2 linked regions of the Homo sapiens genome follow. The protein of the gene in region 2 purifies or fractionates together with the protein of the main gene of each other region. This does not show direct contact. Each region holds a gene or a part of one and is shown on either strand. Other genes may lie near its edges.

Evidence for each region.
Region 1: the proteins of TMEM213 (region 2) and DCUN1D5 purify together in Homo sapiens (affinity purification with mass spectrometry; one large-scale study listed by BioGRID and IntAct). This does not show direct contact.

Annotation. Positions count from the first base shown.
Region 1 is NC_000011.10:103,085,661-103,089,160, forward strand, and holds part of DCUN1D5 (DCN1-like protein 5), read right to left. Parts: intron 1-3,500. UniProt on the Homo sapiens protein: Contributes to the neddylation of all cullins by transferring NEDD8 from N-terminally acetylated NEDD8-conjugating E2s enzyme to different cullin C-terminal domain-RBX complexes which is necessary for the activation of cullin-RING E3 ubiquitin ligases (CRLs).
Region 2 is NC_000007.14:138,804,127-138,807,259, reverse strand, and holds the end of TMEM213 (transmembrane protein 213 precursor), read right to left. Parts: 3' UTR 501-3,133; downstream 1-500.

The DNA.
Region 1 (3,500 bases), on a different chromosome or scaffold from region 2:
GCTTTCCCCGGACTGCAAAATGTTAATCCTTCCAATACCATTGCTTCCAATCTTTCTAATAAAACTACTCTCTGGGTAAAACCTCTGGAGCTAAATTTAATTAACTCTTTTGGACAACTAGGTTTCCACTCAATTGAAGAAGCTATAGAAATGATTTTGTTCATACTATGAGTTCACTCTACTCCACCAGCTAGGTACTATATTAGGACTATGCAATTCCAACCTTATTTTTTGACTCTATGAGACTTTAAAACTGCCCTTTCACTTTCCATGTTTTCAATTACCATAGGCCAGTATATTACTGAATCATTAATTTAAATATCACTCAAGAATGAGGTCTTGTGAAAGAACAAAACCAACAGCCTTATCACACATAATACCATAGTAACAAGTTTAGTGATATTTTCAAAACTAAAAGAAAAACACCATCAATTTCCTGATTTCTTTATAACCATAAAGGAATGTTCCTAGCTATATCTGCAAGGCCTAATACCATGCCAGCCATAACAGATGCTTAGGGGGAAAAAAAAAAAATTCTCAGTGACACAGCACCTTCAACATGAGCTACGTAAGAGTCATTAATTTTGGAACACTGTAAAAAACACACAACCAGTAAATCTGATGCTGTAATGCTATTACTGTTTTAATAATAATAACATTTGAGTTCTGACTATATACCAGGTATTGTGCTAAGGGCTTTACATGTATTATTCTCAGTAGGCAAAATTATTGGCTTCATTTTAATACGGACATACCCATTTCAAGACAGAACAGTTACTGTTTATTTGGCAAACAAATGGTTCCTCCCTAATCAGGTCTCTGCACAAAGTGGTCTCCACAGAGAGGCCTTCCCTAATCACTCTATCTGAAAGTCCATCTAACCCTTCTTTCTTCTCTATTCCTGAACCTCACCATATTTATTATCCTTATAACTCCCCACAATCTGTACTTATCTTGCCTACATACCTGTTTACTGACTGTCTTCCTCACCAGAAGGCAAGTCCCCCAAAGGCAGGGATCTTGTCTGACTTGCTCAGCACTATATATCCAGCACTCAGCACAGTGCCTGACTCAAAACAAGTGCTCAATATTTATTGAATGGATGACAGAAATTAACCAAGAGTACCAATATTTTCTTTGCAAAAGTGAAAATTAGCTTAAATAAAAAATAAACATAAAATAATATCTATTATAATAAAATGTTTATAACTATATATAAACATTATAAAATTTAAATAAAAAATACATAAAAGCATAGTAGTTAAAAGCATGGACTTTAGAATCAGAAGGACCTGGGTTTGAATCCTGGCTCTTGTCACTATATGATCTTGGGCAAATTAATTAATCTAAGTCTCAGTTTTCTCATCTATAAAATGAGGGTATGGCCAAGCACAGCAGCTCATGCCTGTAATCCCACCACTCTGGGAAGCTGAGGCAATTAGATCACTTGAGCCCAGGAGTTGGAGACCAGTTTGGGCAACATCGTGAAACCCCATTTCTTTTTTTCTTTTTCTTTTTTTTTTTTTTTGAGGCAGAGTCTCACTCTGTCACCCAGGCTGGAGTGCAGTGGTGTTATCTCGGCTCACTGTGAGCTCCGCCTCCTGGGTTCACGCCATTCTCCTGCCCCAGCCTCCCAAGTAGCTGGGACTACAGGCGCACACCACCACGCCCGGCTAATTGTTTGTGTTTTTGGTAGAGAGAGTGTTTCACCATGTTAACCAGGATGGTCTCGATCTCCTGACCTCGTGATCTGCCTACCTTGGCCTCCCAAAGTGCTGAGATTACAGACGTGAGCCACCACACCCGGCTGAAACCCCATTTCTACAAAAAATTTAAAAAATTAGCCAGGCGTGGTGGCACATGCCTATATTCCCACCTACTAGAAAGGCTGAGGTGGGAGGATGGCCTGAGCCCAGGAGCTCAAGGCTGCAGTGAGCCATGATCACAGCACTGCGCTCCAGCGTGGGCGACACAGTGAGACCCTGTCTCAAAAAATAAAGTCGTAGTGGGAGGTGGTGATAATACTACCTACTTAATAGAACAGTCACAAGAAAAAATAATATACCTGGGACAATTCCTGGAATAATGCAATTATTATGTTGGCTATTAAAAATGCTAATATAGTAAACAAATGTTTAATTAGAATCTTACACTACCTAGGAAAGTTCCTAGTTGAGGCAAATATTTTCTATTTCTATTGTATCTAGTAACCTTTATAAGTGAAATAAGATGGGTGACCTTTTGATTATATATCATTCATACCAGTAAAACTGGCATTTGGGATAATGGGTCAACATTTTAAATGGAGGTCAGTAAGAAATGAATTCCCTTCATTTAAATTGGGTTAGTGGTTGTCTTGGGATGCCAGTAATAGCATTTATTTCTGGTCTAGAAAGAATCTGTTCTGTTACTAAACAATTTTAAAATTGTACTTTGGGATCACTCAGCTGATTCCAACAGTAAAGTTACTGCCCCCCTTTCAAAATAGTCTCACATTCCATACAATTAGCCTAAACTTATACCTCAAGTTCAAAGTATACTACTTTAGACCTTAATGTGGATGAGCACTAAATATAAGGCAATAGCTACATATACACTTCCATTTTAAACAAACATTTTGAGAATGATAGTGATTAAAAGAAGGAGAAAAAAAAGTGAAGCAGGTTAAAAAAAAGGAAAAGGAAAAGAAAAAAGCTTTAAAATCAATAACTCCAAAAAAACAAAACTATTCTAAGGGGAAAAAAATTCCATATATATTTATGAGATAGTATAAGTGTTCTTTTGCATATATTTGCTTAACTCTTCAGCCCCATCTCTGGCTGGCTTTGACTTTCGCCTCTAAAACACAACCCCATCCTGGGCCTAGGGCTCTTCATCCACCAGTTACAAGATTTAGCTGAGGTTAAGTTAGCTCCTCTAGAAAACTCCCATGACACTTTAAAAGCTGGGTTATATATCCCTCCTATGAACTCTCACAGTGTATCTTCTGAATATAGTATTTATCACACTGTATTAATATCAGTCTATTTATTTTCTTACTATTGCATCTCTAGTAGAAGTGGATGGCTAAATGATAATTGTTAAAAAGTAAATGTGTTGTACAATTATAACTGAGGGGTTTAAATCTTTTACTATGTCTCCCCAAAAGTTTCAGAAAATGTTAGTTCAGAAAAATTTCAAAAAGAGAATATTGAATAGAAATGTTTTATTATGTACTTTGTGTTTTCCACAATATCAAATACAAAAATGTTTTATTGTGTACCTTTTATTTTCCAGAATACTACTTTAGCCAATAGATGTAAATAAATGAATCTTTGTTTACACGTTTTATTAATAGTAAATGAGTTCTTCCCTCCCAGTAAATATATACCGAATATATATTTAAAGAAATATCAGCCTAAATTGGCAACAAATTTTTAGTCTACCCACAATCTTCAGTCCTGACCCTCATCCCAGTACACAGCACTAACACATAGCAGGCCTGTAACAGATAATTTGTT
Region 2 (3,133 bases):
TTAGTAGAGACAGTGTTTCTCCATGTTGGTCAGGCTGGTCTCGAACTCCCGACCTCAGGTGATCCACCCACCTCAGACACCCGAAGTGCTGGGATTACAGGCATTAGCCACTGCACCTGGCCAGGAATAGATTTTTAAATGATGATTTTTATTTAATTTAATTAACTTATTTGTTTGAGACAGAGTGTCGTTCTGTCACCCAGGCTGGAGTGCAGTGGCCCGATCTCGGCTCACTGCAACCTCTGCCTCCCAGGTTCAAGCAATTCTTCTGCCCCAGTCCCCCAAGTAGCTGGGATTACAGGCACCCACCATCACACCCGGCTAATTTTTTGTATTTTTAGTAGAGACAAGGTTTCACTGTGTTGGCCACGCTGGTCTCAAACTCCTGACCTCAGGTGATCTGCCCGCCTTGGCCTCCCAAAGTGCTGGGATTACAGGCGTGAGCCACCATGCCCGGCCACTAAATGATGATTTTTAAAGTCAGATAATTATGCCACACCTTAATATTTAATACTTTATTTCTACATATGACATTTTGATACAGACATGCCCCATATAATATGGACTCTGTGTTACATAAACTGTAGCTGTGTTGAGGACAGTGTCCACTGCTAGAGGCAAAGTTTTAAAATGAAAAGTCCAAAAGTTAGGTAAGTTCTGTTGCTTTAAGTTAGGAAGTTATTAGATCCCTGGAAGTTGATGCCTGCTTTCCCTTTCAGATTTTCTTTTCTTTATTTTTTTCTTTTTGAGGCAAGGTCTCACTCTGTCACCCAGGCTGGAGTGCAGTGGCAAGATCATAGCTCACTGCAGCCTCAACCTCCTGGGCTCAAATGATCTTCCCACCTCAGCCTCCCGAGTAGCTGGGACCACAGGCATGCGCCACCAGTCCCAAATAATTTTTTTGTATTTTTTTGTAGAGGTGGGGTTTCGCCATGTTGCCCAGGCTGGTCTCAAATTCCTGGGCTCAAGCAATCCTCCTGTCTTGGCCTCCCGAAGTGCTGGAATTACAGGAGTGAGCCACCACATCCAGCCCAGATTATCTTTTTTAACTTATTGACAGATAAAGATCTGGTCTGCTGTAATCAAAAAATTTTCTGTTGAGAATAAATCTGAGAGGTAGCATCTGGGAAGTAGAACCATCAAACTATAGAACCATTTTCTTTGCAGTCTCAAGGAAAAGAGTGGTTGTATTGATTCGTTCTCTCCTTCCTCTTGTGCAGATGAAAGAAAAGCAATTGACAAAATGCCTACATTTTAATGTGAGATGGCAGACTGCACATACTTCAGTTCAAAGTAGTCTAAGCATCTACGGGGTTCCCCAGACTGGAGGGCATCTCAGACACCAACTGGTGCCCTGACCCTTCACTTATTAAAGCAGAAAAAAAAAAAAATCCTACCACAAGGTTTAAAGACACAAGAGCCATGCGGCTCAGGTTGAAAGAACAACGGGCCTCATGCCTACCCCGATTCCATGAAGCGACTGAAATGGTTCCATGAACTTTTGCAACTCAGCTTGAAACTGCTGATTTGGTCCAATTCTTCTATTTTCCACGTGTAAAATTGGTGCTCAGTGAGATAAAGTGACTTATTTCTGTTCACATTGGCCAGAAATAAATCTTAATTTCCCTTTTTAAAAAAAGATAGTACTCTCACTGCTACGTCACACACTGTTATATTTTTTAAATGTTTGCAGATGTTAAATCAAAGCATGCACCTTAATGAATCTTTTCATCTCTTGGGAAATAAACCGTCACATATTGTGGAAACGCTTCCTTTGAATTTCTGAAAACATGGAACACATACTCATATTGTATATCCACAAAATGCACCAGGAATTATGCAGACGCTTTTTTTTTTTTTTTTTCCAGACAGGGTCTCACTTTGTTGCCCAGGCTGGAGTGCAGTGGCACAAACATGGCTCACTGCAGCTTTGAACTCTCTAGCTCAAGTGATCCGCCTCCCTCAGCCTCCTGAGTAGCTGGGACTATCAGTGTGCACCACCACGCCTGGCTAATCTTTTTTTTTTTTTTGTAGAGACAGGGTCTCATTATGTTGCTCAGGCTCAGACTCTTTTATGTATGTGATCATTTAACACTTAGGAACAAGAAATCCATCCCGTTGCACTGATTCAACATCTGAGATTCAGAAATTATCTGCTGTTTTGGAAGACTACAAGATGAACCAGGCAATCTCTTCAGTTTCTGTTGTCAGGGAACTTTACTTAGATTTTCTGAAAGAGCCACTGAGCAGTTTTGAGTCATTTGCCTCTTCAAGAGATTGTTCCTATTTCAGAGGTCTTTCATTTTTCCTTTTTGTATTTTGACTAGAGTTTATCTGATCTAAATACATGTTTTCTCACAGAAGGCACAAAATGCTTCATAAGGAGTCATTTTGTCCTTTCTTTCTTCTGATGAACCTGCCCTCTCCTCCTCTGCAAGGTTTCACAGTGATGTGCAACGTCCACTCTCCATGCTAAGTGACAGTGACTGTAATTTGCTGAGAGAGCAGTGACCAAACCATTGGCTCCTTCAGAGGCTGGTTATTTCAACCATCTGGAGAAAAATGGAGGCTCCTAATGCAGAGTGAGGACCTTAAGTTGTCTAGGGCAAAGACTCATTTGTTCATTCATTCATTAATTCACCCATGCACTCATTGGACAAACTTGAATAGGGTACTATGCCCCAGGGGTGTGAGGAAGGATAAACTATGGAGTGGCCCATTCACAACAACTGCACATCAGGGCAGAGCAGAAGTGCTCTAACAGCACCAGCTCCAGGTCACCCAAGGATGACCAGGAAGGCTCCAGGCAGATCAAGCATTCGAGCTGGGCTTGGAGGAATATCCTTGATTCTGGAGGTGGAGTTGGGAAGCAGCCATCCCAGCAAAGAACATGGCAGCAGAGAAGCTGAAGACACCAGGATGAGGAGTGGACCAGTCGGAATCCTTACTCCTGGATGTGCTGGGGGACAGATGGACTCCTCCAAAGAGCTGAATGCTGGGCTGAACAGTTTTAGTCCTTAGGAGCTACTGACTGTTGTCAACAGAAGGTGACAGCGCCTACCCTGGCAGCTGCCCATGGGGAGTGATGAGCCGGGGAGGAAGATCCTCAAGACAGTGAGGACAGAATGCAATA